Linked DNA regions of Homo sapiens. The protein of the gene in region 6 purifies or fractionates together with the protein of the main gene of each other region. This does not show direct contact. Each region holds a gene or a part of one and is shown on either strand. Other genes may lie near its edges. The genes, in order: ACSL3, JAG2, EXOG, NRXN3, ALDH18A1, SLCO3A1 and TAOK1.

The links.
Region 1: the proteins of SLCO3A1 (region 6) and ACSL3 purify together in Homo sapiens (affinity purification with mass spectrometry; one large-scale study listed by BioGRID and IntAct). This does not show direct contact.
Region 2: the proteins of SLCO3A1 (region 6) and JAG2 purify together in Homo sapiens (affinity purification with mass spectrometry; one large-scale study listed by BioGRID and IntAct). This does not show direct contact.
Region 3: the proteins of SLCO3A1 (region 6) and EXOG purify together in Homo sapiens (affinity purification with mass spectrometry; one large-scale study listed by BioGRID and IntAct). This does not show direct contact.
Region 4: the proteins of SLCO3A1 (region 6) and NRXN3 purify together in Homo sapiens (affinity purification with mass spectrometry; one large-scale study listed by BioGRID and IntAct). This does not show direct contact.
Region 5: the proteins of SLCO3A1 (region 6) and ALDH18A1 purify together in Homo sapiens (affinity purification with mass spectrometry; one large-scale study listed by BioGRID and IntAct). This does not show direct contact.
Region 7: the proteins of SLCO3A1 (region 6) and TAOK1 purify together in Homo sapiens (affinity purification with mass spectrometry; one large-scale study listed by BioGRID and IntAct). This does not show direct contact.

Annotation. Positions count from the first base shown.
Region 1 is NC_000002.12:222,926,619-222,930,648, forward strand, and holds part of ACSL3 (fatty acid CoA ligase Acsl3), read left to right. Parts: intron 1-398; coding exon 399-571; intron 572-2,243; coding exon 2,244-2,318; intron 2,319-4,002; coding exon 4,003-4,030. UniProt on the Homo sapiens protein: Acyl-CoA synthetases (ACSL) activates long-chain fatty acids for both synthesis of cellular lipids, and degradation via beta-oxidation.
Region 2 is NC_000014.9:105,144,614-105,148,643, reverse strand, and holds part of JAG2 (protein jagged-2 isoform a precursor), read left to right. Parts: intron 1-204; coding exon 205-318; intron 319-414; coding exon 415-528; intron 529-755; coding exon 756-872; intron 873-1,116; coding exon 1,117-1,144; intron 1,145-1,232; coding exon 1,233-1,318; intron 1,319-1,919; coding exon 1,920-2,033; intron 2,034-2,143; coding exon 2,144-2,259; intron 2,260-2,670; coding exon 2,671-2,913; intron 2,914-3,582; coding exon 3,583-3,714; intron 3,715-4,030. UniProt on the Homo sapiens protein: Putative Notch ligand involved in the mediation of Notch signaling. Involved in limb development.
Region 3 is NC_000003.12:38,506,225-38,510,254, forward strand, and holds part of EXOG (nuclease EXOG, mitochondrial isoform 1 precursor), read left to right. Parts: intron 1-629; coding exon 630-744; intron 745-4,030. UniProt on the Homo sapiens protein: Endo/exonuclease with nicking activity towards supercoiled DNA, a preference for single-stranded DNA and 5'-3' exonuclease activity.
Region 4 is NC_000014.9:78,704,960-78,708,989, forward strand, and holds part of NRXN3 (neurexin 3), read left to right. Parts: intron 1-3,822; exon of another isoform or gene 3,823-4,030. UniProt on the Homo sapiens protein: Neuronal cell surface protein that may be involved in cell recognition and cell adhesion. May mediate intracellular signaling. Functions as part of a trans-synaptic complex by binding to cerebellins and postsynaptic GRID1.
Region 5 is NC_000010.11:95,636,007-95,640,036, reverse strand, and holds part of ALDH18A1 (delta-1-pyrroline-5-carboxylate synthase), read left to right. Parts: intron 1-2,600; coding exon 2,601-2,750; intron 2,751-2,839; coding exon 2,840-2,944; intron 2,945-4,030. UniProt on the Homo sapiens protein: Bifunctional enzyme that converts glutamate to glutamate 5-semialdehyde, an intermediate in the biosynthesis of proline, ornithine and arginine.
Region 6 is NC_000015.10:91,856,392-91,860,421, forward strand, and holds part of SLCO3A1 (solute carrier organic anion transporter family member 3A1), read left to right. Parts: intron 1-4,030. UniProt on the Homo sapiens protein: Putative organic anion antiporter with apparent broad substrate specificity.
Region 7 is NC_000017.11:29,508,668-29,512,697, forward strand, and holds part of TAOK1 (serine/threonine-protein kinase TAO1), read left to right. Parts: intron 1-2,196; coding exon 2,197-2,325; intron 2,326-4,030. UniProt on the Homo sapiens protein: Serine/threonine-protein kinase involved in various processes such as p38/MAPK14 stress-activated MAPK cascade, DNA damage response and regulation of cytoskeleton stability. Phosphorylates MAP2K3, MAP2K6 and MARK2.

The DNA.
Region 1 (4,030 bases), on a different chromosome or scaffold from region 6:
ATAAAGTACATTAAAGCAAAAATTAATTTGATTTTAATACATTTCATAAAGATGATAGAATTGTTCAGTATTAATATATGATAAATATTTTATGTAAATAATGATATAAAAGTGGCCATAAGCAAGGGTTTTCCTGTCACTATACAAAACTAAACCTGACAATTCAAATTCGAATATCACTTGAAAAGCTCTTAAGAGGAAATAATAAATTCTTTACCTTGTTGAACTTCAAAAAATTAACATTTGGGGCTCAAGAGACTCTCCAAATTGGCTGTGTGACCTTGGATAAGTAACTTAATCTCAAAATCTCTCATATCAAAACTGGGGGATTAGTTTAAGTGATTTGGAAAATCCCATTCAGTTTTAAAATCCTGTGGTTCTCTAATTTTTTTCTTTAGCTTTGTTTTCCGGAAAGTTCGAAGCTTGCTAGGGGGAAATATTCGTCTCCTGTTGTGTGGTGGCGCTCCACTTTCTGCAACCACGCAGCGATTCATGAACATCTGTTTCTGCTGTCCTGTTGGTCAGGGATACGGGCTCACTGAATCTGCTGGGGCTGGAACAATTTCCGAAGGTAGTGTTCTCCATGGTCAGAGGCTGGAGTGTGATGCCAGACGTTTTTTTGGGGTATGGGATATTTTCTGCAAATATATAGGAGAAGAGTAGTAAGGTGTTTGTGAGGCAGAATAATGGTGGATTCCAAGTACTATGATCATTGATATCAATTTTTAGAATGTATTAGATGCATCTGGAGTCAATAATTTATCTGGAGAAGTTTTTATATCAAACTGATAGGTAATATTAAAAACCACTTAGCATTTTGGAAGAGAAACTTTAGTAACAAACACTGACTGTTTTGTGTACATTTATTTTCTCACATCAGTGATTAAATTTCTTTTTATGTAGAAAACTTAAGGTGCTTTTGTTTATTTGTGTAGGTGAGTATATTAAGGCTCAGGTTCAGAAATGTTTATGAGGATTTCTGTAAGTGTTAGAGAAGGAACTAAGTTCTGGTCTAGGGAATATTATTACCAGAGTTTATCATGTGGTTGTGTTTGAGGAGGAGATCTACCAACTAATCAGCAGTTCTGAGATGAATCGCATAGGGCCTCATGCGTCCCTTTTATGGGAGAAAGTTATTTTGCTTTCCGGTACAGGATACAGCTGTGCTTCTCCTACTTTGTATTTGCCATATACGGATAGATACAAAACCTCATGACTGATTTTTCCCTATTTATTTTGAGTGGCTCTGTATACCATTTTCATGTATTACTTCATTTTTCTGTTTTTCAGTTATGTTCTCTGTTTTCGTATATTTTTGGAAGCTAGTTCTAAGTCATGTTTTGTAGGAAATAAGCAATCTTAAATACATGCATAGGGGATTTCTTTCTTCTGAGGATCCTTAATTTCTTCTATTTTTAAGATTCAAATTGAATGATTAATCAGTAACAGTTTATGTTTTAAATAAAAGTCTTTAAAATGTTAAATATCAGCCTTTCATTTCTGATATTTGGTCTTTGAAGAGGAAACATAATGCAATAGTAATTCATAATAGTGGAGGGTTCTTTCCTCACATCCTTGAAAGCCACCAGTCTTATTCTTCAGCCTGGCTCTTGAGCTATTGCTGTATTAATTTTAAATAGGGTGTGATAGCATAAGCTGATGGAAGCCTGCAGAGATCTCACTTTGAAATGGTGATACATTACATGGGAAAAGATTAGAGAGGTGTTTTATACTGCACATCGGTGAGGCCTAATAAGAAAGTAGAATAGACGTAAACCATTGTTTTCATCATCCTTTAAGACAGGGATTTCAAACTCAAGAACCAGGCAGCTACCTATTTAAATGAGTCAAGTGGGCCCTAATGTAAGACAATGTGATGGGTAAGGATTGATTCTGAGGGAACAGGAGCAGGCATGCCCTCTCTAACAGAGGCCGTCAGTTCTGCTGTACCTGAAATGTGGGCCCATTGTTGCTGGCGATTCCACACTTACATCTAAAATTTCCTGATTTTTTAAGAATGACAATAACTAATTTAAAAAAAAAAAAAAAACCTCAATGTAGGCCAAAAAATACGACTCTACAGGCCTCACGGCCTGTGCTTCACCAATATGTGACTTCTGCTTTTAAGGAATAGCTGGGGATACCTCAGCCTTAGGATAAATAATCATTTTTGGTAATTTAGAAAAATGAAGCAGTGTATTAGCTACTGTTCTCAAATATCCTTTTTTTCATTTAATTCCTAGTGTGGGACTACAATACTGGCAGAGTGGGAGCACCATTAGTTTGCTGTGAAATCAAATTAAAAAACTGGGAGGAAGGTAATAAACTATTTTAACCACAGAGCATTAATTTTTAAAGTATTAAACTTGAAAATTAGTGCTTCACTTTCTTGCTTTAGAATGTAAACACCCATAAGTGCTCATTTTTGTCCTTTGTGATAGACGTGTTTTATCTCGAACTATATGAATGCATTTATTTTTCTTGTTTCAAAGATGTTTCTGAAGAACTATTATTGTTTTCATTTTACTTATTACGTAGATGCAAGTAAGAATTATGGCAAAAACTTGAGAAATGTACTAATAAGTGAATAATGTCAATAAATTAGGAGTGATCATAACTTTATTTTGCAGAAGTAAAATTATAAAATTTATTTTATGAAATTGTGGATTTTTAAATGATTTTTTTCTTTTTTTTTCTGAGGGCTTCAACCTTGTATTATTAGAAGGAAATTTTCACTGCAATTCCATAGAAGTCTGTTTATTCTCATGCCATTTAAAATAATGGTCACTTAAAAATTTATTTGATCCTGTTAAAATATACAAATTATCTGTGTTTTATTGGGATGCACCTTTCCTCTACATTAAGTAAAGATAAAGATTCTGGCCGGGCGCAGTGGCTCACTCCTGTAATCCCAGCACTTTGGGAGGCCAAGACGGGCGGATCATGGGGTCAGGAGTTCGAGACCAGCCTGACCAACATGGTGAAACCGTCTCTACTAAAAATACAAAAATTAGCCAGGCGTGGTGGTGCGTGCCTGTAATTCCAGCTACTCGGGAGGCTGAGGCAGGAGAATCACTTGAACCCGGGAGGTGGAGGTTGCAGTGAGCCAAGATTGCGCCACTGCACTCTAGCCTGGGTGACAGAGCGAAACTCTCATCTCCAAAATAAATAAATAAAGAAAGATTCTAAGGCTTGGATGTCTTTTAGCTATCTTTAGCAGAATTAGTGGGAATATTTAATAAATTTAGGCTTGGAGTCATTTTGAAATTATCTATAAGAATAAATCTTAATATGTAGTAACTCACTTTTTTTTTTTTTTTTTTTTTGACACGGAGTTTTGCTCTTGTTGCCCAGGCTGGAGTGCAGTGTCAATGGTTTCGGCTCACTGCAACCTCCACCTCCTGGGTTCAAGTGATTCTCCTGCCTCAGCCTCCCTAATAGCTGGGATTTCAGGTGTGCGCCACCATGCCCGACTAATTTTTTGTATTTTTAGTAGAGGTGGGGTTTCACCATGTTGGCCAGGCTGACCTCAAACTCCTGACCTCAGGCGATCCACCCTCCTTGGCCTCCCAAAGTGTTGTGATTACAGACATGAGCCACTGGCCCAGCAGTAACTCATTCTTATATAGGGATTTGTTCTATTAATTGCATGACTTAATACTTCTGTCAGTTTATCAATATGATATTTAAGATGTTGCAGAATCTTTCAAATAATTTGTCTCTTGTATTTATAATTTTATACAACAAATGGAAGATGTTGGGTTTTAGAGTTTAATTTTTTTCTCAGAATAGAAGTTTGAAAACATAAATACTTATGGTTTAGCAACTGAGATTTTGTGCCTACTGTTAAATTGATAAACTTTGTTCATTCATAGTGTCTGCCTTTTTTCCTTTGGGAAGTTCTAATTGGATTAAAATAAGATGACTGTTTAGAAACTAGTAGTTTCAAATTTTCATGTGTTGTATTTAACTCAACTATTAACTCAATTATTATTTTATTAGGTGGATACTTTAATACTGATAAGCCACA
Region 2 (4,030 bases), on a different chromosome or scaffold from region 6:
CCAGAAAGGCCTGGCCAGGGGGTGCTGCCACCATGGGGTGGAGTCCCAGGCTGCCCCCATGCCCGAGGCCAGCTCCCCCGGCCCGACGCTCCTCCCCCGCCCCTCTCTGTCCTCACCTGGCCCAGCTCCAGTGCTTCCTCCCCCGGGAAGCCCTCCCTGAGCGCCGGTGACCCCCCGCCCGCTGACCGGCGTCCTCGCCCCCAGATCCCAACGACTGCCTTCCCGATCCCTGCCACAGCCGCGGCCGCTGCTACGACCTGGTCAATGACTTCTACTGTGCGTGCGACGACGGCTGGAAGGGCAAGACCTGCCACTCACGTGAGTGTCCGCAGGCCCTGGCCGCCTGGGGCTGCCCCCAGGACCCTGGCCCTGGCGGTCTGGGGCCTGCCTGCTGAGCGGCCCATGTGCCAACAGGCGAGTTCCAGTGCGATGCCTACACCTGCAGCAACGGTGGCACCTGCTACGACAGCGGCGACACCTTCCGCTGCGCCTGCCCCCCCGGCTGGAAGGGCAGCACCTGCGCCGTCGGTGAGGAGCCCCCGCTGCCTCTGCGACCGCCGGGCATATGCCCTCCCAGGCACCGCTCCCTCGGGCGCGATGGGCCGAGGGGTCTTTTTTGAGGGCCACACCTGCCACCTGCCCCCTGCCCCCTGCCCCCGGGTCTGTCTGCCCTGTCTGGGTTGGGGGCGCGGTATGGAGACCCAGGGCCAGCCCAGGGCCAGGTGAGACGCTCCCTCCTCCTCCTCTCCTTACAGCCAAGAACAGCAGCTGCCTGCCCAACCCCTGTGTGAATGGTGGCACCTGCGTGGGCAGCGGGGCCTCCTTCTCCTGCATCTGCCGGGACGGCTGGGAGGGTCGTACTTGCACTCACAGTGAGTGTGGGAGGGGTGTGGGCGGGGGCCGCTTTCCTCCACCCAGATGACATCCCTGCCCCCGACTCGCCCCCCAGTCCCTTCTGCCAGCCCCTCCCCCTGCTGCCCCTGCCCCCAGCAAAAGGCACCCTCCTTGATGACCCTCCCCAGCCCCACAGCCTGATCACGCCAAGCCAGCCTGGACAGTGCCTGGCACGCTTGGGGGGTGGGTACTGATCCCCTGCGTTCTCTTCTCCCAAACCAGATACCAACGACTGCAACCCTCTGCCTTGGTGAGTGGCACCCTGGGGGCCACAGCAGGGGTGGGTGGGACTTGGCATACCACGGGGGGCCACCTGATGCCCACCCTCTGCTCTGCAGCTACAATGGTGGCATCTGTGTTGACGGCGTCAACTGGTTCCGCTGCGAGTGTGCACCTGGCTTCGCGGGGCCTGACTGCCGCATCAGTGAGTGGCCAGACAGCCCCAGCCCTGGGAGCCCCTCAGCCCAGCCGCGGTGTCAGGAGTCTGGGGACATCAACGTCCACGTCCCTTGAAGGGCAGTGTGGCCACAACTACTTCCTGCCTCTCTTCTGAGCCTCAGTTTCCCCACATGTCTGTGCCCTGTGGGGTTCCTGCTGTATACCCTGCCAAGTGATTAAGTGGGGAGCCCCAGCCTGGGGGACCAGTCCGGGGCCCAGGGAGCTGTGGGGGTTGGAGCGTGCAGCCTGACGTGGGCTCCTCTGTGGCCGCAGGGCTGTTGTCCCTGGGTGTTGGCCCAGCTGTCTGTCCAGCACCCCTTGGCTGGTCCGACGCAGCAGCTGGGGCTAATCCAGGATGGGACAGGCCCACTGCAGAAGCAGACGGAGGAGGGTGCTGTTGGGCCAGGGTCAGGCTGGGCTCAGGAAGGCCTCAGGCAGGCAGCAGCTTGGGCTCGGGGGCAGGGGCTGCTCCTCATTGTCCTGGGGCTTGCGCCTGTGTGCCACTGGCTCCCCGCTGCCCTAGGCCATGCCGGTCCTGCGGTGGGCGTTGGCCTCACTGCACTGAGCAGCGGTGGCTCTCCCTGCAGACATCGACGAGTGCCAGTCCTCGCCCTGTGCCTACGGGGCCACGTGTGTGGATGAGATCAACGGGTATCGCTGTAGCTGCCCACCCGGCCGAGCCGGCCCCCGGTGCCAGGAAGGTAGGCCCCGTGTGATTGCCCTGGGTTGGGGCGGGTTGGGGGGCATGGGTGACACCCAGCCCCGAGGGCCAGATGCCCACTGCTGACCCTCGAGCCCCTTCTCCCCACAGTGATCGGGTTCGGGAGATCCTGCTGGTCCCGGGGCACTCCGTTCCCACACGGAAGCTCCTGGGTGGAAGACTGCAACAGCTGCCGCTGCCTGGATGGCCGCCGTGACTGCAGCAAGGTGAGGGCAGCCCGTGAGCCGCCCTGCCCTACCCGAGGCTGGTGCACGCTGACCCTGGCCACTCTGTGAGATCAGGAGGCGGGTGCTGGGGTCCGGATGGACTGAGAGCCGTCTGCCCTCAGGGACACCCAGGGAGGCGAGAGCTCAGCCAGGCCCCATGCTTCGATGTGCAGTTGGGAAAACAGGCCTGGTCTGGGTCCTGCCTTGCTCCGCCTGCCCTTTCTGATGTCGAGCTTGGCCTGCCTCCCTGGGAGCCCTGGGTAGGGGGTGGGCTGGGCCCTGGGGCTCACAGACTTGGGCGGTGTCCCTCCTTGGCATGGGGCCCGTGCCTGCCTGTGGGTTCTCATCTGTGTGCCTGCATCTGACCCTCCTGTGCGCCTGCGCCTGACCCTCCTGTGCGTGCCTGCCCAGGTGTGGTGCGGATGGAAGCCTTGTCTGCTGGCCGGCCAGCCCGAGGCCCTGAGCGCCCAGTGCCCACTGGGGCAAAGGTGCCTGGAGAAGGCCCCAGGCCAGTGTCTGCGACCACCCTGTGAGGCCTGGGGGGAGTGCGGCGCAGAAGAGCCACCGAGCACCCCCTGCCTGCCACGCTCCGGCCACCTGGACAATAACTGTGCCCGCCTCACCTTGCATTTCAACCGTGACCACGTGCCCCAGGTGAGGGGCCTGGTGGCATCTGAGCTTGCAGAGGCCACACGCCGGCATCTGCTCGTGGCATGGCGAAAGCCTAGCCCCGCAGGGCAGGGAGGCCCTGGTTGGCTGAGCAGAGTCACTCTTGGTCACAGAGAGTGGCCCTGTGGGGTCAGATGAGAGGGGCATTGGGCCTGGTGCTGGGTGGAGGTGGCAGAGGAGGCTGGGAGAGCAGCCAGCTGGGGGTGCCTGTTTGTCCAGCTGCCCTGAGGGCCTGGACTGACGGCGCCATGGCTGCCTGGCCCCAGCTCTTGGGCTGTAGCTCCGTGGGCAGTTTTGCCCTGGCCTAGGAGCCACCTTTGCCTGCTGTGTGCTTGGAGCTGGGCCCCTGTCTCCCAGGAGGGGCTCAGAACTGGAGGAGACCCACTGTACCCCGCCCTGCCTCTCCTTCCCCCACTGGCCTGCAGGTGGAGCTGGGTCCGCCCTGAGGATGGGCGGGTGGGCACCGTCACTCCTGCCTCCTGGTATAGGGCACAGCCGGGTGGGAAGCTGCCCCCCCAGGCCCTTGGCATCCTTGCTGTGCTCTCCTGGGCGGGCTGTAGGGTGTGTCCCACGTGTACCCACAGCGCCAGTCCAGGGATGTAGGTGTCAGGTTCACGGCCCTGCCCTGCCCACGCACTGCCTGTCTCTGCCCAGGGCACCACGGTGGGCGCCATTTGCTCCGGGATCCGCTCCCTGCCAGCCACAAGGGCTGTGGCACGGGACCGCCTGCTGGTGTTGCTTTGCGACCGGGCGTCCTCGGGGGCCAGTGCTGTGGAGGTGGCCGTGGTGAGTGCCCAGTGGGGAGCAGCACCTGGGTGGGCCCTGGGTCCCGTACTATGCAGGTCCTGGCTATGCTGGACAGAGGCTCTGGCGAGGCTAGTCCTGGTGCGGAAGGACTGCGGGCAGGCCTGTCTCCCTGCGGCCCCTCGCTGTCCATGCCGCAGACCCGTGGAACTGCTCCCTGGGCCTGGCCAGCATGAGGGAGATGCAGGGCTGTGGTGTGGAGCCCGCTTCCCCTGCAGCTGCATCCTCGCCCGGTCCCCTGCTCTGTTTTTGTCTCTGTGTCCCTACGTCACAGGCAGCAGGAGAGTCCGTGGGCTTA
Region 3 (4,030 bases), on a different chromosome or scaffold from region 6:
TTTTAAATGATAAATCCCAGCATTATAAAGATTGTTGTGAAACTGCTGTGTTGTATTTTAATTTTTTAGAGTAAATTGATATAACCCTATTAAAAGCTTATAGAGTAAATTGATATAACCCTATTAAAAATGTTAGTTTTACATATGATGACGAGTCTTTAAAATAAATTCATTCAGTAATTCTGGTCCTTGAAATTTATCCTAAGGAATTGATACAACGTTGCATTATATAAGAAATGTTAACATAAGCCCAATTGTCCTGCAAGAGGAATGGTTAAATAAAGTATATCATCTTGTTGGAATGATACATAATTCTTGAAAGCTGGTTGGGAACTATGGCATAAAAAAAGTTTTAAGTTCATGAAATTTGAATTCCAGAATGTACTCTGAGCGCACATAAAGAAAAATGTAGATAGTTTTGTTAGTGTATGTGATTTTTAAGTTTTTTCTGTGCAGTAAGCAAACTGGGAAAATAATTGTTTATATGCTTATAATGTTTTGTGCCATGTTCTTGTTTAATTTCTCAAATGCAGTTTTTCTTGGTATCTTTCATAGGAATTGATATGATTTGCTGCTGTCTTACATGTATATATGTGAGAATATCATACATTTTTTTATTTGTTTTTCAGAATAGAAATGTACTGTCGAGAGCTGACAGAAAGGTTTGAAGATGTTTGGGTGGTATCTGGGCCTTTGACCTTACCTCAGACTAGAGGCGATGGAAAGAAAATAGTTAGTTACCAGGTAAGGATGTTTAATAGTCAGGTTTATGTTATCTGTATGAGATTATAATCTCACTTTCCATTCTGCTTTTTATTTTTATTTTTATCATTCAAAAAAAATTTTGCATTCTACTTTTTAATTTCACTTATTCAACAATATTTATTGAACACCTATTAGGAATGATAGGCATAGGGAATATAGTGATGGATAAAAGCAACTATTGACTTCAAGGAACTCACGGTTTAGAGTGGAAAACAGATGTTAACAATTAATTACATTAAAGTGTGACATGCTGTAATAGAGGTAAACACACACAGTGTGGTCTTGTGAAAGGACTGATGGGCTCTACTCATATGAGTCAGGAACGCTTAAAAGAGGAAGTGATATTGAGCTATACCTTGACAGATAAGAGTCAGGAGTGGACCCTGAGGATTCCAGAGGATGGAGCAGGATGAGCACAGGACATTTGTGGTCAACATCAGGGTTTTGAGATTTATATATCATTCATAAAAATTGGAGCTTATGGTACAAAACAGTGTGGGTGGCTCAAGGGGTATGAAGAGTTCCATAACAACAGGTGGACGGGTGAGATAATATGCGACTTTCTATTCTATGATGAAGACTTGGGTTTTAATTTTTAGGCACTAAGAAGTCATAGATTTGTTTTAAGCGTGGGAGAAATATGATATTTGGGTTTTATAAAGAGTATTTTGGCAGCAGCGTGTAAAGAGATAGGTGGGAAAAGGGAGCATTTGAAGAAGAGATTAGAGGCAAGGAGATGAGTTAGGACATACAAGCAGTTGGAGTGAGGAATAATAGAGGAACACAGGAAAGAGTAACCATGAATAAATAACTTGTTTGAGTGAGGAAGAGGGAGAAGTTCCAGGATAACAACTAGATTGCAGACCAGGCTCAGTGGCTCATGCCTGTAATCCCAGCACTTTGGGAGGCCGAGGCAGGCGATCACGAGGTCAGGAGTTCGAGACCAGCCTGGCCAATATGGTGAAACCCCGTCTCTGCTAAAAATACAAAAATTATCTGGGTGTGGTGGCGTGTGCCTGTAGTCCCAGCTACTTGGGAGTCTGAGGCAGAAGAATCGCTTGAACCCAGGAGGCGGAGGTTGCACTGAGCCGAGATCGCACCACTGCACTCCAGCCTGGGCGACAGAGCAAGACTCCACCTCGAAAAAAATAAAAATAAAAATAAAATAAAAACAACCAGATTACAGTGTTACAGTGAGTTGAATAAATGGGAAGAAAAGCTTTTCTTCTAGAAGCTTCTTTTTTTTAATATGCAAGATATGTGAGCACTTTTATAGACTGAAAGAGAGATTAAAGATAGGAGAGTGTAATTAGTGGTGTGAGAGCTTCAGACATCTAATGTTGCTGGGAAATTCTTAGCTAGCCTTTCATATTGGCAATTTACAAAGTGGTATACCTGAAGAGCAGGTGTTCTTAGAAAAAGTTTAACATTTAATCTTATCATGCAGAAATATCCTGAGGATTCTTCCAAGAGGGTGGCTGAAATGTTATACTATACTGTGAGGCTTACAGAGGGCAGGGAACAGGTGGAGTGAAGCAGAAGAGGTGGTAGAGTGAGTAAAAAGAAGCACTGAAGGACTTGCTAATAAGGCCAAAGAGGAGGGGAGGGAACACCTAGCTCAGCTCTGGAAATAAAGTAGATATTTAATAAATGCTGGTTAGGTAAATGATTACTTAAGTCTGTGATAAAATTTAATAACCTGAGGAACAGATTGAGGAACCACCCCCCCCCCAAAAAAAAACCAAAACTTTTAGAGTATATTCTGTCCATTTGACTTGCTTATTATCAGCCTGTCTAGATCAGATGTGCAGTAATGTCCAAGCATCCAAGGATTTGTATAGGTCCATATGAATAGCCCACTTTCTCTTTTTCCACACAAAATTATGACCCAACTACTTCTTTTTGTTAAGTGGAAATGATAGAGTAGTTGTTTTCAAGGATTTGTACATCCTTGGAAAATTCCAGTAGATATGGGAGTGAAGGAAGTCAAAGGAATTAGTATTTTAAAATTAATTCATTTAATATCTCTCCTCCCATATTAATTTCTCTCCTCTGATTAACTTGCTAATTTAATTTTAGTATATTTTATAGTCTTAGGAGAAAAAAAGGCTTAAAGCCCCCTGTATTATTTTTCAAATATTAATTATTCTTGGTCTTTGTTAAATCCTGTTTATTTTATGTCAGAAAAGAGGCTCTTCTAGCTTTGACTTGTATATCTTAAATGGTTAAATTACAGTTTTATTTGTGCTTTGTTTTTATAAAATTGAAAAATTTATATCACTAGCCTACTGTGTAGTAGAACAAAAATTTGTACAATGTTTAAAACGAAAAATTAACCAATAATTACAAGCATTTCACTACATAGATTTTTGTGTGGCTATTTCTGTAAAATATGTGTTGCCCAAATGCCGTAGTGGAAAATGTATTGTTTTTCTTAAGTTGGATATAATTTTTAAAAATAGAACTGATAAAAATATATCTTCTAGTTGTTTCTGCTGAAAAGGCCCAGAAGAATTGGTATGTCATTAGCAATGAACACATCTTGAGACCCAGATATTTGTTTCTAAAAAGCATCTCCTGAAAAGACTCAGCGCTTAGAGAAATGACTGATTTAAGGGGTGGTACAGGGAGAGTACAAAATGGAACATCATATATCAGAAAGCCAAGGAAGTGCTCAGACAAATGGTGGGGATATGTCAGAAGGACATGTGAATCAGCTTGAAGGAGCTCCCACTTACTGTATCTGGTGCTATTGAATATCAAAATAAAATGGATTATAAACCTATTGAATTAAATAAGAATACATACTCAATAAATATGTAAATACATAGGGTGTAAAGAAAAGCTTCTGCATACCATAGAATGTCAGTTAATAAATTTGCGAGAATGAAAGAGTTATACAAATCATTTTGCACACATCACCATAATTGATTCAGGCAAGAGTCATCACTAGCTAAAACTAGTGAGTGAATGTTTTATGAGGAATAGGGTATTTACATAATCTAAAAGTATCTCCTCATACATTATTTATTAATCACAAAGTAAGAAATAACTTTACAGTGAAGAAACATCCCATTACCCAAGTGATCAAGTTTAGTATTGCTAGTAATGGGACTTAGTGAAACGCTGTACTCCTGGTGTGATGCACTGAGCAGGATAAAATATCAGGCATACCCCAATTGAGAGACATTCTGTGAAACAGCTGACTTCTACTTTACAAAAGTGTTAGTGTCATAAAAGACAAAGGCTGAGAAACTATCTGTTC
Region 4 (4,030 bases), on a different chromosome or scaffold from region 6:
CTTTGTCTTAACTTTGAGATTCTGTCCTCAGCTGTTTTACTGTCTGGTCTCCTAAGCATGAGTCACGTGTCCAAACAGCAGTCTTTACAAGCCCATGGGTGGGATAGTAAGACCAGCTTGTCACTGTTTGTGACTCTGCTTCTGTACCTCCCAGTCTGTGTGACATCTTCCCCCATGGGGAGCCGTTTCTACTTTGTCTTTAATTGCTCCTCACCGAGGCGACTTGTCAGCCAAGGCTGCTTTCTGTCATTTGATGCCACATCTCTTCCTATTTCAGCCAGCCATTTGGGGACATTCATTTAGTTGACAGTCTGATTTTACAGAGAACATTGTACCAGACAATAATTTGCCTTGTAAGGGGGTCCAGCAGGGTTTCCTGCCTCCATGCTGACCCAGGGTGCCAGTACACTTCTGCGTGGCTGTGGCTGTGGTTCTGCACAGAGCAGGTGGGGAAGGTGAAGATATTAACAATGGAGAGTCCCAGTTGAGCATCACTGGGCTACAAGTCCCTTGCCCTCCTGTCCTTTTCCTCTTGGTAGATAAACCTTCACAGAACCTCAATTCAGGACCCTATCCATTTCCAACAGAACCCCAACACCATGGGAGATGAAGATATAGGATTATTTCTTCCTAGGTTTGTGTGCCGGTTTAGAATTGTCTGTGTCCTACTATGTCTAACATCCCACTTGATCTTGACAACAGCCCTGTGAGCTGGGAAAGAGGGACAGTTTGTGGAACAGATATCGAGGCTCTTACCTTTGGAATAAATAAAATGGGACTCAGAAGGGTTATTCAGCTGTCAGTGAGAGTGGTGTTGGCTTTTTATTCACAACAGTGAAAACTCCATATAAATAGACAGGTAATTTCAGGGCCATGGAGTAGATAGAGCACTCACCCTCAAAGAGCCTTTGAGAGAAGTCTGGTTATCTCTGTCTGGCCAGTTTCTGGCCCTTGCTTCTCTTACCTATGTCTTCAGAAATCTTCATTCCGGCTATTCACCTTCTCTCCCAGTCTCAGTTAGGTACCCTTCTCACAGAAGAGTTCCTCTTCACTGCTCTTGTATCTTGTTAAAAGGCTTTTTTTTCCCTCCTTTTTATTCTGTCCCCAGCCTGCTGTAGCAATGCCTGATCTCTCTTTCTATTTATTGTTCCATGGAGCCAAACCTCCTTCTGTCCCTTTGGGATGACCTATTGTTATACATTAATAATTAACCTTTACTAGGAACTCTAGTCACAGGCATTTAACCCAAATGCAGAAAAAGCCAAAGTTTGTTTATGACAAAGAGTTCTCACATGCTAAGGTATAATAGTGAAGGTTAGAAAGGAGAAGCTGACACTCATTAAACTTTTATGATTTCTTTTCTGGTTTACTCACTTGAGTGATTGCCTGAGGATCCTGCAATATTTCCCTTTGCACATGGTCAGCCCAGTTTAGCTAAAATGAAAAATTCAGCTTTTGAATTGTGAAGTTGAGCATGCATGACTTTCCATGTAATGTTAAAGATAAGCCTCACAGGTGCTGCTAGTGGGGCCTGGTTCTGAGCATATGGACCCTGGGGCCCAAATGCCTAGGTTCAAGTCCTGCTCTGCCACTTATCAGCTGTGTGCCTGTGGGCCGGTTCCCTAACTGCTCTCTGTGTCTGTTTCTGCATCTGTAAAATAAGGCAATGATTACAGGTATCTCAAATGGGTGTTGTCTGTATCTAATGGGATGGAGAGGTGTTAAATCCTTACCATGGTGCCTGGTGGTAGGTGCTTAATAAGTGTTAGTATCATTATTTTCAATGTTATTGACTATGGTTAGGTCCACGGTCAAGGTTACATAATAGTGAGTCATTTTCAATGCTTCGCCATAGTTATATATCACTCTTGTAATATCCATTAGAATGCAAACAGCTTTGCTTGATTCTCTCCTGGTGATGAGAGATGGGAACTAATTCTACATTTAAATATTGGGGATTATATGATATGTGCTGGAGTGACCCATCCAATTAACTTTGTCTCACAGATATGGACAGATGAGGCTTATTTTAGAAATTAGCCATTGTTGTTTTGGAGATGATAATGCAACCTTTTCAGGGCTGTGGAAATAGCGAAATGAGATTAACAATAACCCTCCAAATAGCTGCGACTTTTGTGCCCTTATGATATTGCATTCCTAAGTGCTTCACATGTTTTAAATCATTTTATTATTACAAAATAAATAGTTTGTTTATTCCTATGTTCCCAATTTCAGGAGAGGAAACAGACTCAGAAAATTTACTTTGCCAAAGTCACATAGCTTGTAAGTAGTAAATGTGGAATTCAAACCTAAATCTGGGTCCTGACTTAGAATTTGAATAAGGTAATATAAAGAAAATAGGAAAATAGTTGGGACGCTCAATACTCAGATCCTTGTCTATTTCCCTTCCATTGTTTTCTGCTTATTAAGTTTTTATGGATACGACATTGCTCAGAGATCAGAGCGCCAAAAACCATTCCAGGGTACTGTATCAAATTTCAGTTCAAATAAGAGTAAAACTTTTTTGAAATTCTAATTTCATGGAGAAAGATTAATTTCTGCTTTTAGATGGATTATACCTGGTTTAGAAAGTCATAACAGATTTTTTTCCCATAGGTTATTGGGGTTCAGGTGGTGTTTGGTTACATGAATAAGTTCTTAAGTGGTTATTTGTGCGATTTTGGTGCACTCATCACCCAAGCAGTATACACTGCACCCTATTTGTAGTCTTTTATTCCTCACCCTCATCACACCCTTCCCCTCAAGTCCCCAAAGTCCATGTATCATTCTTATGCCTTTGCGTCTTCATAGCTTAGCTCCCACATATCAGTGAGAACATACAATGTTCGGTTTTCCATTCCTGAGTTACTTCACTTAGAATAATAGTTTCCAGTCTTATCCAGGTCACTGCAAATGCCATTAATTCATTCCTTTTTATGGCTGAGTAGTATTCATATATATATATCACATTTTCTTGATCCACTTGTTGATTGATGAACGTTTGGGTTGGTTCCACAATTTTGCAATTGGAAATTGTGCTGCTATACACATGCCTGTGCAAGTATCTTTTTCTTATAATGACTTCTTTTCCTCTGGGTAGATACCCAGTAGTGGGATTGCTGGATCAAATGGTAGTTCTACTTTTAGTTCTTTAAGGGATCTCCACACTGTTTTCCATAGTGGCTGTTAGACAGTCATAACAGATTTTTTTAACTGCCATCCTCACGTTCTCCACCTACCTACCCACTCTGCAGGACAGTGGCCATGGCTTTGCAGAAGTGTACACTAACCTTGGGTAGGGCATGGAGGCAGAAAGCTCTGCTGGACCCCCTTGCAAGGTGAATTAGTATCTGGTTCAGTATTCTTTGTAAAATCAGACTCTCAACTAAATCAATGTCCTTGACTGACTGGCTGAAATAGGGCTTCAGGGTGTCTCATTCTACCACTGTACAGAGGGCACATGCAATGTGCAAAAAATAAAAACAAAAACAGACCTCTGTCCCCACCAGCTTTTAACACTTACTCTTTTCTTTCAAGTAATATATCCACATGGTTGAAAAAAAGTCTAACACTGTAAGAGGGCACAGTGAAAAGTAAGTCACCCTCCCACTCCAGAATATTAATCCCGCAAATATACTCCCCAATGACAATTTTATAGTTCCAAAGAGACTTTATGCTTACTGGAGCATATATACATATAATGCCCCCACGCCCCCACACTTTTACACAATGATAACATAATGCACCCTCTATCCTGTTCCTTGACAATTTCACTTAACAATGTGACCTGGAGAGCTTCCACATCAAAACCAAAAGCAATACCTTGTTTGCAAGGCCTGCCTAATATTCCATTATAACGCTGTGCCATCTGCTATTGATGGTCATTTAGGTTGTTTCTGGTATTTTACTAAGGGTGCTTCAGTAAATCACTTTGTATGAAGTATGTGAATCCATGCAACTCGATCTCTCTTGATTTTTATTTGCAAGCTTATGTTGTATAACTTTCTGACAACACAAGAAATTGGCCAGG
Region 5 (4,030 bases), on a different chromosome or scaffold from region 6:
AATGATCATCAACAGATGCTAACATCACAAAAAGAAAGATAACCAGGCATTATGTATCCCCTTGATGAACATGTACACCACAACTTATAAAGACTTGTTGGGGAAAAAAAAAAAAGCCTTCATACCAAACAGCAGTTTATAGGGTATACAAAGAGCAGTATTAATACCATAAGGACACAATTGGGAAAATGTAGGCTGGGAAATCCTAAAGAATAAACAACTCAGTTTAACAAAAAATTACAAGGGGGAAAACTGATGGAGAAGGGAACCCATGAATGAAAGAGACTTGAGAGACACTTCAATTAATTTGTAATGCAGGGTTTAATTTGCATCTCAATTTGAGCAAGGTAAAAAAAAATTGGAAAAATATGAACACTGGCTATTTGATATGAAGGAAATCATTGAAATATTCCAGATAATGGATTTGTGGAGAGAGAAAGACATATAATTATATATTATATATAATATATATGATTATCTTTTAGCAGTTATTACTGAGCTATTTACAGATGAAATAACATGTCTGTTGCCTGGAATTTGTATTAAAACAATGGTGAGGGTATAGAGGGGTTATTGGAGAGTGGGAAGTTGGCCATGAGAGATAGTTGGTGAAACTGGGTGGTATGTACATGGGGATTTATAATACTATTCTCAGCACTTTGGTTAAGTATTAAATTTTCTTTTTCTTTTTCTTTTTATTTATTTTAGAGAGAGGGTCTTGCTCTGTCACCTAGACTGGAATGCAGTGGTGTAATCATAGTTCACTGCAGCCCTGAACTCCAGGGCTCAGTTGGGATCCTTCTTCAGCCTCCTGAGTAGCTGGGACTACAGGCACATGCTACTTGGCTATTATTTTTTTTAATTTTTCATAGATATGGGGTCTTACTATTTTGCTCAGGCTGGTTTCGAATTCCTGGCCTCAAGCAGTCGTCCCACCTCAGCCAGCTGAAACTTTCTGTGATAAAATATTATTGTCGGGGCCAGGCACAGTGGCTCACACCTGTAATCCCAGCACTTTGGGAAGCCAAGGTGGCTACTCAAGGGGCTGAGGTCAGGGGGTTGCTTGAGTCCTGGAGGTCAGGGCTACAGTGAGCCATGATTGTGCCACTGTCCTCCAGCATGGGTGACAAAGCAAGACTGTGTTTCAAAAAAAAAAAAGTTATTATTGTTTTAAATCATGGTTTATCATAGCTGTTTGTTAAACAGCTGGACCAGTTAAAAGGTTTCAGACATCAGAAGGAAAGGACAGTTTAGGAATATTGACTTTATTACATCTTGAGTCTTTAATTTTTTCATGTAGGTCTGCTTAAGGTAGGAAACAAAGTGACCGCATTTGGTCTTGGGCAGACAGAGCAGAACAAGGTCAGCATGTGCCCCTGGTGTAGGCAGAGGCAACCCATAGGATTAGACATGCCACCAGAACAGCCTCCTTTACCCGGGTTAAGCCTTAGAACCTGAGAAGCCATCTACTGAGTCTGCGTTGCATTTCCTACCTGCGGACTTTTATTCTGGGCTTCATTTCTTGGAGGAACTAGGCCTTCTGCATTACACACTCCCTGCAAATATTAGGTTGGCACAAAAGTAATTGTGGTTTTTGCCATTACTGTCAATGGTAAAACTGCAATTACTTTTGCACCAACCTAATACAGTCAAGTCCTATAGATGTCAAACTTGGCTACACACCAGAATTTCCTCATTAAAAATGTCTTACTTAGGCCAGGCATGGTGGCTCATGTCTGTAATCCCAATGCTTTGGGAGGCCGTGGCAGGAGGATGGATTAAGACCAGAAGTTTGAGGCCAGCCTGGGCAACATAGTGAGACTCTGTTTCTACAAAAATGTGTTAAAAAAGAAAAATTAGCTGGGCATGGTGGCATGAGCCTGTAGTTCCAGCTACTTGTGAGGCTGAGGCAGGAGGATCACTTGAGCCTAGGCAGCCAAGGCTGCAGTGAGCCACATTCATGCCACGGCACTCCAGCCTGGGCGACAGAGCAAGACTCTGCCTTAAAAAAATTTTTTTCTTAGGGTGTTGTTGTTGTTGTTGTTGTTGTTGTTGTTGTTGTTGTTGTTTTTGAGACAGCATCTCTCTCATTCTATTGCCCAGGTTGGAGTGTGGTGGTGCGATCATGGGTTACTGCAGTCTTAACCTCCCTGAGCTCAGGTGATCCTCCTACCTCAGCCTCCCAAGTAGCTGGCATGCACTACCATGCCTGGCTAAATTTTGTACTTTTTGTAGAGATTGGGTCTTGCCATGTTGCCTGGGTGGTCTTGAACCTCCTGGGCTCAGGCATTGTGCCTGCCTTGGCCTCCCAAAGTGCTGGGATTACAGGCATGAGCCACCATGCCCAGCCAATTGTTTTAATTAAAAAATAAATTAAAATGTCTGATTTTTGTCTGCCACCTGCTAAATAGAAATTTGAGACAGGATGTAGGAATCTGTGTTTTTACCAATCTGGCTGATTCTTCCAGAGCCAGCCACATGCTGGTTCATAAACCAGCATTTGGGATCTACTCGATAGCCCACCCTACCTCCATCCCTTGTGAAGAGATGAAAGAGACAGTACGGTAACTTACAGTCCCCTTTCCTTTCTCAATGCCCAGGTATCAGTGCTGCAGAATCAGGGCAGAGAGATGATGCTGGTGACCAGTGGAGCCGTAGCCTTTGGCAAACAACGCTTGCGCCATGAGATCCTTCTGTCTCAGAGCGTGCGGCAGGCCCTCCACTCGGGGCAGAACCAGCTGAAAGAAATGGTGAGTGCTGCTTCCCCACACATTGAAATGGATCTTCAGGTCTTCTTCCCTCATTCCCTACCACACCTTGTCTCATTGGTATATTACAGGCAATTCCAGTCTTAGAGGCACGAGCCTGTGCAGCTGCCGGACAGAGTGGGCTGATGGCCTTGTATGAGGCTATGTTTACCCAGTACAGCATCTGTGCTGCCCAGGTGAGAGGCTGGGCTTTGAAATGGGTGTGGGACCTGTGAGGGTGGTTGTTGTGGAACAAAGGGGTCTGGAGCCAGACTATTGGAATATGGTGTCAGCTTCATCACTTGCTACTTGAGATCTGAAGAAAGTTTCTTTTCCTTTTTGTGCCTCAGTTTCCTCATCTGAAAATGGGGATAATATCAGTGCCTATTTCAGATAATTTTTGGAAGGGCTCAGTGAGAAAATATATGAAAAGCATTTAGTATAGTGTTTGGTACATAATACATTGTCAGTAAATATCAGTTCTTGTTACACTAATAACTTAGGATTCCAAGTGCTAACACTTCTGAAGACAGAGAAGTTAAATGTCTTTATTTCACTGGCTTCTTTGATTTCAGGTGGCTTGCTTCTCTTTGCACCTGGTTGGTTGCCTTTTATAGCAGATATTTATTAAGCTTTGAAGGGAAAGAGGAATGCTGGTGATTGGTTGGTTTTTCACTCATTCAGCAAATATTTATTGAGCACCTATGGTGTACCTAGCAGTCTTGGGCATTGGGGATACTGTGGTGAACAAATCAGACATGATTCCAGTCCTCATGGGACTTACGAATTTTTGGTGGCTACCCCTAAATGTTCTAGAACCTTCTTTCTACATTGTTTCATTTTTACCTAAATCTCCTGAATTTTTTTGAATTATATTCTTAATCAACTGTACAACTACACACTAGAGACATCTCAATAACAGTCACTTCAGGAAACAACTGAAAAAAAAATCTAACTCCCAAATTATTTTATTTTGAAATTCCTTTACCTGTAAAGATGTAAAATAGCTGTTATTTTATATTATGGATATTATTTTACATGTACACTACATGCACAGATGTTATTTTACACAGGTGATATTGTTATATATACATATATTGTTTCAGGTTTTGCTTCTTCATTTCCTGTTACTTTTTTTTGTTTCTCCATCATTTGCCTGTTTGTACCCACAGTGATGTTCTGGTATTACACCAGAGTGTCCTCAAGTCAGTGAGGTAAAACAGAAAGGCACGGACTTGTCCCATTGCCTATGGCTGGGGACCCCACTTTCTGTAGTCTTAGCT
Region 6 (4,030 bases):
GAAAATAAATAGTTGGCTTGTCAGGGTTGACTGACGCAGCTTGCTATGGGCTTTGCTCTTCTGGGCCACTTCAGAGTTTTCTCTTCATCTGTTATTTGGGAGATGGGGAAAAAAAGTTTGCTCCTTCAGCCATGCGAGACTTCTCTGTGGATAATTGGAGAATGAAATATTGCAGGCTGTTTGCAGGAAAGGCACATTTCTTCCTTTTAATTCATCATGGCTTTCTTAGGAAACCTGAGACCTTGTGTCTGTAGGGGACCACAGGGCAGGGTCCACGTGCTAAGTGTGCGTTATACGTGATCCTTACCTTGGCAATCAGCCTGCCTCTCTAATGAGGCATTTCCAGATACTTGAGGAAGGACTTGCCTTGGGACAGTGCCAGTAATGCTCCCTTTCACAGAGAGGAGGGTGGTTACAAATTCTATGCCAACGATGTTATTTCCTATTAGATTCCCAGAGTCCACCTTCTTATTTCATCTCCCCAGGTGCCTTAAAATATTGCAGTTTCATTTCCTTATTTTTTTCTGAAAAGACAAATTTCTCAGTGTCCTGAATGACACTAGTGTAGGCTTCCCAACTGCAGAACTGAAGCAGAAGGTTGCCTGTGATTTAAGAAGCAACTTTGAGAAGGAGGACTCGTGTGTGTGTGTGTGTGTGTGTGTGTGTGTGTGTGTGTGTGAGAGAGAGAGAGAGAAAATGTGTGTGTGTGTCTGTGTGTGTGTGTATGTATGCATGTGTTTGTTTTCCACCAAGAACCTGCCCAGGGAGGAAACTCAAAGGAAAACTGTATTGTATATAAGGCCATCAATTGTTAGGCTAGGCTGGGGGCCTGCAACTTTTGCCTTGGTGTCAGGCAGTACAGAAAGACACTGATCCTGAAAGCCAGACTCAGTGATCTAGATAAAGTAACCCAGGTGCAACCTGGGCCAACTGTGGATTCTGAAATCTATTACGGTTACAAACATCTTAACTGGAAACCATGCTTCAGATAAACCAATAGTCACAGGGATGTTCCATCATAGTCACCTAAACCTCCTGACTGGCTATGACATAATTTTTGCAGCATAAGAGGAGAGGCCTGCTCGGTTTGATAGTCATTTTGTATGGAACAGAGAATGCAATTTAATTTTCTTCTACTTGGGTTTTGGCTTCGAGTGGCTCCAGTCCTGTTTGCAAGGATGTAACATGTGCTTAAGTCTTGGACTGGTTGGAGAAGATGCAGGCATATGAGAACTGCATGGGGAGAAAGTCATTTTGTGTGTGCCTATTGGTGTTTTGCAGAGACCCCCTAAAATGTTTTAAGCCACTCGCTGAGGGTAGCCCTGCATATAGAGGTTTCTGTGTGGTATCAAATTACTGAGGACTGGAGTAGATAAGGGTGTGTACAGGAAATTAAAGCCTCTGACACTTCTAGATGATTAGTTTGAGGCATACATACAAATACATTTGAATTTCCTCAGGTTGAAAACTGAAAAAAGGCCAGTCTAGTTTCCTGGGTGGGGCACAAAGGGAGTTCCTGTGAACAAGGGGTAGGTATTTCCCTATTTAGAGTTATAGAAAAATAAGTTTGAGGTTGTGGTGACAAAATAATGACATAGATGACTGAGTGTGGTTAATGAGGCTCTATCTCACTGCTTTGTAGTCACACTTTTTCTTTCAGCCTGAGAATAGTCAAGTGGGCTTGCAATTAATGGGTGAGGCGAAACTGCTAGGTTTGTTACTCCTTTTTTTTTTCTAAAGAAACATCATTTCGAAGATGAGTTTCTGCATATTCAACCCAGAAGCAGACAGCTCAGGAAACTGTCTGTTGACATTTTCAACAGAGAGAGACATTTTTAAAGTCCTTGTCAAATTACTATGATGACTAAGGTAACCGTATTTTATTTAATCAAATTATTTTATACACTTATGCTTACTCAAAGTGACAAAATTCCTTGCCATTTCCATAATTACTATGTAGCCCCAGGTAGTAAGAAATAAAATTACCTTGATTTTTTTTTTCCTTATAGCTAGATTCAAAATGTTAATAATTATTAAGGGAAAAAGGTGTTTCTGAAAATTCTTTTCAGCCAGGTTTGTGTATTTATCTTTGTTTGTGAGGGGGTTTTTGTTGGTGTATTTAACAATAGAAGAAACTGAATGAGTTGTAAAATGAGCGAGGGCTCTATCCTGCATTTTGTTAACTCTTCCCCTCATTCAATTTTAGACACCTTATGAAAAGGATCGCCAAGAGGCCTCTCTGCAGTGGCACCGCCTTGCTAATCAATTGCCCAGCATTTGCAGCTCATCTTGGGTGCTGCTGGAATCGTGTTTTCTGTTATGCTGCATGGGCTGCTTCTTGCACGAAGTCATTGGTGAACTGCTGGGCAAAGGCAGCCCCACCAACAGGGTCTCTGTGAATTTATTTTGCACACCTAAAAGCAAACTTTGAGGTGCTGCCTTGATCAGGGACTGTATTCTCTTAGCAGATTGGCCTGGATGAACAAGGGTAGTATTGCAAAAATGATGAGGATACAGCTGCATTTCATGCAGAAAGAGTGAAGAATAAAACTCCCTACTAGCTGCATTTCTCTGGCTTTAGTTCCAACTCGCGCAGATTTCACTACATGCATCATTTAATAAGCATGTTTCTCTAAAGTGGAGTCAAAGTACTTCTCTTCTGCATATGTACTCTATTCTGTACATTGCCGCATGCATTGCATATTTACATACGTGTTTGTGTACAGCGTTGCATACAATGAATATTGTATGCCATACTTTTTGAAGGTGCGAAGGGACATTTCAATGGTAACTTTGACTGTATGGTTGACACATGGATTTGGAACCGTTCTCCCCTGAAGAAAATCTCGGTATTTTCTTGCCTCTCGGAAATGCCTTTGGTAATCTGTAGGCCAGAAAGATAGCATCCTTACTCTTTCAATTCATTTTTATTTTCGGTTTCTATGTCTGTATCTGGAAAACAGATATAAACAGGAAAAACAGTGGAATCATGGACCTTGGCTCATAGGATAAATGAATTGATGTGATTCAAAGACACTTGTATTTTATGTAGCCTAAGTGTTTATGTGTTAGCATGAGACAAATTATTGCTTAATGGTTAAAACTCCAAGTTAAATGATTACAGTTCCAAGGTGGAGAAAGGCAAGTGTCTGTGGCAGCTGTCGCTTATTCGATGAGTGTTAGAAGACTGGGATTCATGCCTATGTCCTCCCCTTACCTGCTCTGTGACCTTGAGCTGTTTACTTAATCTCTGTGTACCTCAATTTTTCATTTTATAACTGGGGTTATAATAGTACCTACCCTCTGTTTTGCTGTGAGGATGAACTGAGTCAGTACATGTAAAGCACCTTGAACAATATCTGGCACATAGTGAGTGCCCAGGAAATATTAGCTATTACTATTAATAATAATATGGTTATGCATATTTACTGCAAACATAATAACCGTGTAGCCCCAACCAATGAGAAATAAAATTATTTCAATTAAACTTTAGTTTTGGTTTAGTGAATTGCATATTCAAGTAGTTTCCTATTCTACATGGACATTTTTGTCTGGGAGGTAAAAAGTTTTTAAGGGCAAGTAATAAGCTAAATATCAGTTGCTAATTCTGTTTATTCCCTTATAAATATAGCAATCCATTTCATCTTAAAGATGCTATAAAAATTAGTCACATGGGAGAGGAGCCCACTGCAGGAATGGTGATTCATGTTGATCATTTACAGTCCATGGGTACTTGAAGGAGGTTAAAGCAGGGCAGGCAGGACTGGCTGGGCGGGGCAGGTACCCTGATGCTTCACTTTGGGAGGTCCTCAGTATCTCTTGCTGTGGTCTGTGGCCACTGGGTGCTGAAGGCTGAGGGTAGGTGGAAAGAATGTTGGACTTGGAGTTGGAAGACCTGGATTTGAACTTAGACTTGCTATTTCCCAGCTCCTGGCAACTTCACTTACTCGAGCCTCAATAGCCTCATCTGAAAAATGGGGATAATGATCAAGCTTATCTTACAGATGGTTGTGAGGTTTAAACAAATAGT
Region 7 (4,030 bases), on a different chromosome or scaffold from region 6:
TTGAATTTCTGGCAGCATTTTAATATCAGAATGATTTAAGATTACTGTAATAAATACAGATAATGTTGAAGATTATAAGTTATGAAAGATTCAGATTCAGATTGAGCTCATTTGATTATTGACAAATAATTGTCATTATTTTACATGATAAAAGTTAGTTTTTAGGATTTTTGTTATGTGAAACCTTTTCTTCTAATGTTTTTGGTGTCCCATTGTTTTACTTTTTTTGATAGCCATGTTTGTCAAGTAGAATGTAGACTTCTCAGTAAATTCACACAATATCATTAAAATATGTCCAGGTAGTCTGCAGTGAGGCATTATTTATCATAGCTACCCTCTTCTCCCTTTTCACAAAAAAAGAACATTCTTATAGTAGTAGGGACCCTGACAAAATAATTTATAGTATAAATACATACTTGATTTTGAAATAATTTGATGAAACAATGTATACATATTTAAAATCCTCTGGGCATTGGATATTTTCATTTTTTTATTTTTTATTTTATTTTTATTATTTTTTGAGACAGAATCTCCCTCTGTCGCCCAGGCTGGAGTGCAGTGGTGTGATCTCAGCTCACTGCAACCTCTGCTCTCCAAGTTCAAACAATTCTCCTGCCTCAGCCTCCCAAGTAGCTGAGACTACAGGTGCATCTACCATGCCTGGCTAATTTTTCATCTACCATGCCTGGCTAATTTTTGTATTATTTTTATTTTAGTAGAAAAGGGGTTTCACCATGTTAATCAGGCTGGTCTCAAATCCCTGACCTCAGGTGACCTTCCTGCCTCGGCCTCCCAAAGTGCTGGGATTATAGATGTGAGCCACCACACTTGATAGATATTATTTTTAATAGCTTGGGAAAAGGCGATACTAACATATTTAGGAAAACAATTCCTGAAGCAGATATGCAATGTGGTAACAAATTTGTTTTAAAAGTATATAACCAGGATGGGTGCAGTGGCTCACACCTGTAATCCCACCACTTTGGGAGGCCGAGGTGAGAAGATTACTTGAGCCCAGGAGTTCAAGACCAGCCTGGGCAACATGGGAAGACTCTGTCTCCACACACAAAAAAAATAAATTAGCTGAGCAGGGTGGCATACGCCTTTAGTTCCAGCTACTCAGGAGGCTGAGGTGGGAAGATCACTTGAGCTCAGGAGGAGGCTGCAATGAGCCATGATTGTACCACTGCACTCCAGCCTGGGTGACAGAGTGAGACCCTGTAACATATTTTTTGAGACAGGCACTCGCCCTGTTACCCAGCTGGTCTTGAACTCCTGGGCTCAGGTGATCCTCCCACCTCAGCCTCTCAAAGTGTTGGGATTACAGGTATGAGCCACAATACCTACTTAATTATATACATGCAAATATATGTGTGTATGTGTATGTGTGTGTGTTTGAGACATGAACATTTATAGAAAAAATTAGAGGCCGGGCATGGTGGCTCACGCCTGTAATCCCAGCACTTTGGGAGGCCGAGGTGGGTGGATCACCTGAGCTCAGGAGTTCAAGACCAGCTTGGCCAACATGGCAAAACCCCATCTCTTCTAAAAATACAAAAATTAGCCAGGCGTGGTGTCACACACCCGTAGTCACAGCTACTTGGGAGGCTGAGGCAGGAGAATCACTTGAACCCGGGAAGCGGAGGTTGCAGTGAGCCGAGCTCGTGCCACTGCACTGCAGCCAGGGTAACAGAGCAAGACTCCATCTCAAAAATAATAATTTTAAAAAAAGAAAAAATTGCAAAAGATATGCACCAAAATGTTTACATTGGTTATCTCTGGATGCCAAAATTATGTAAGATGTTTCTTGTTTTTCTGTATTTTGTAAATATTCTACAATGAACATGTATTGCATATAGAATCAGAAATAAAATATAGCATTTGTTTTGTTTTACTGAGGGATTGAGGGTTGGGAGGAAGGTATACTTCTGTTAAATGAAATAAAAAGTTGACAACATTTTTGACCCTGTAAGAGATCAACATTTCAAAGATGAGTTTCATCTTACTGATTCTATGAAGTTCAAATTATAAGGATGCCAAGTAGCACATGTTTATAATTTGGTTCAGTCTTTTATTTTGGTAATGTTTCTAATGATTTCTTGTTCTTAGAAAATAAAAGGTATTCTTAATGATGTATATTAAACCACTACTTTATCTACTTAACTAAATTTGATTCATTTTTTAAACTTCATATAGGCTAAAGTGATGTCCAATGAAGAGAAAAAATTTCAGCAACATATTCAGGCCCAACAGAAGAAAGAACTGAATAGTTTTCTCGAGTCCCAGAAAAGAGAGTATAAACTTCGAAAAGAGCAGCTTAAAGAGGTACTTATGTCATAAAACTTTCCAAGCAAATTTTCTGCTTATTAATTATATCCAATGGTGACCAACTCATAGAAGCATTAGGATAAAATTATCTTTTGTTGTTTATGGTCACTAAATGGGTATTAGTTTAAATGATGACATTGATTATAATCAGTTACCCTTAACTGAGTCATTTAGTTGAGTAGGATTTAAAATGAATCATTTCCTGAAAATATACTTTTTTTATGTTTTTATTTTATATTTATTTATTTATTTTTGAGACAAAGAGTCTCGCTCTGTCACCCAGGCTCGAGTGCAGTGGCGCGCTCTCGGCTCACTTCAAGCTCTGCCTACTGGGTTCACACCATTCTCCTGCCTCAGCCTCCCTAGTAGCTGGGACTACAGGCGCCCACCACCACACCCGGCAAACATTTGGTATTTTTTTTAGTAGAGACGGGGTTTCACCATGTTAGCCAGGATGGTCTCGATCTCCTGACCTTGTGATCCGCCTGCCTCGGCCTCCCAAAGTGCTAGGATTACAGGCATGAGCCATCGTGCCTGGCCTTATGTTTTTATTTTTTGTGTGTATTTTTTGAGACAGTCTTATTCTGTTCCACGGGCTGGAGTGCAGTGGCACAATCATAGCTCACTGCAGCTTCGACCTCCCGTGCTCAAGCAATCCTGCTTTAGCCTTCCAAGTAGCTGGGAACACAAGCACACACCACCACTCCTGGCTGATTTTTAAATTTATTTTTTGTAGAGACAGGGTCTTGCCATGTTGCCTAGTCTGGTCTCAAACTCCTGGGCTCAAGCAGTCCGCCTACCTCGGCTTCCCAAAGTGCTGGGATTATAGGCATAAGCCACCGCACCTGATCACATTTATTACTTTAAAAGTAAACAATAATGTCTTACTTTTGGATCAGAAGATTATAATAATTTGTTTTTATGCCAATTTAAATGTAGAATAAGGGAGATATTTGCTTATCAGGTTTTTTTTAAGTAGAATATGCTGATTATTTCTTTGTGGCTACAGGGTTTCATATTTGTTTGCCCTTTCTTGTGCTGCCCGGCCTCCCCCCTACCCCCCGCTTTTTTTTTGAGACGGAAGTCTCACTCTGTCATACAGGCTGGAGTGCAGTGGTGTGATCTTGGCTCACTGCAGCCTCCCCTCCCCCCAGGTTGAAAGGATTCTCCTGCCTCAACCCCCCCGAGTAGCTGGGATTACAGGTGTGTGCCACCATGCCTGGCTAATTTGTATATATTTTTTTAGTAGAGACGGGGTTTCACCATGTTAGCCAGGCTGGTTTCAAACTCCTGACCTCAGACAATCTACCCACCTCGGCCCCCCAAAGTGCTGGGATTACAAGAGTTAGCCACCACTCCCGGCTCTTGTGCTGCTTTTTGTTTGTTTGGTTTGGTTTGGTTTGAGATGGAGTCTCACTCTGTTGCCCAGGCTGGGGTGCAGTGGCATGATCTCGGCTCACTGCAACCTTTGCCGCCTGGGTTCAAGTGATTCTCCTGCCTCAGCCTCTTGAGTAGCCGGCATTACAGGCGACTGCCACCACGCCTGGCTGATTTTTGTATTTTTAGTAGAGATGAGGGTTTCACCATCTTGGCCAGGCTGGTCTTGAGCTCCTGACCTTGTGATCCACCCGCCTCAGCCTCCCAAAGTGCTGGGACTACAGGTGTGAGCCACAACATCCAGCTGACAACTTTTTTTTTTTTT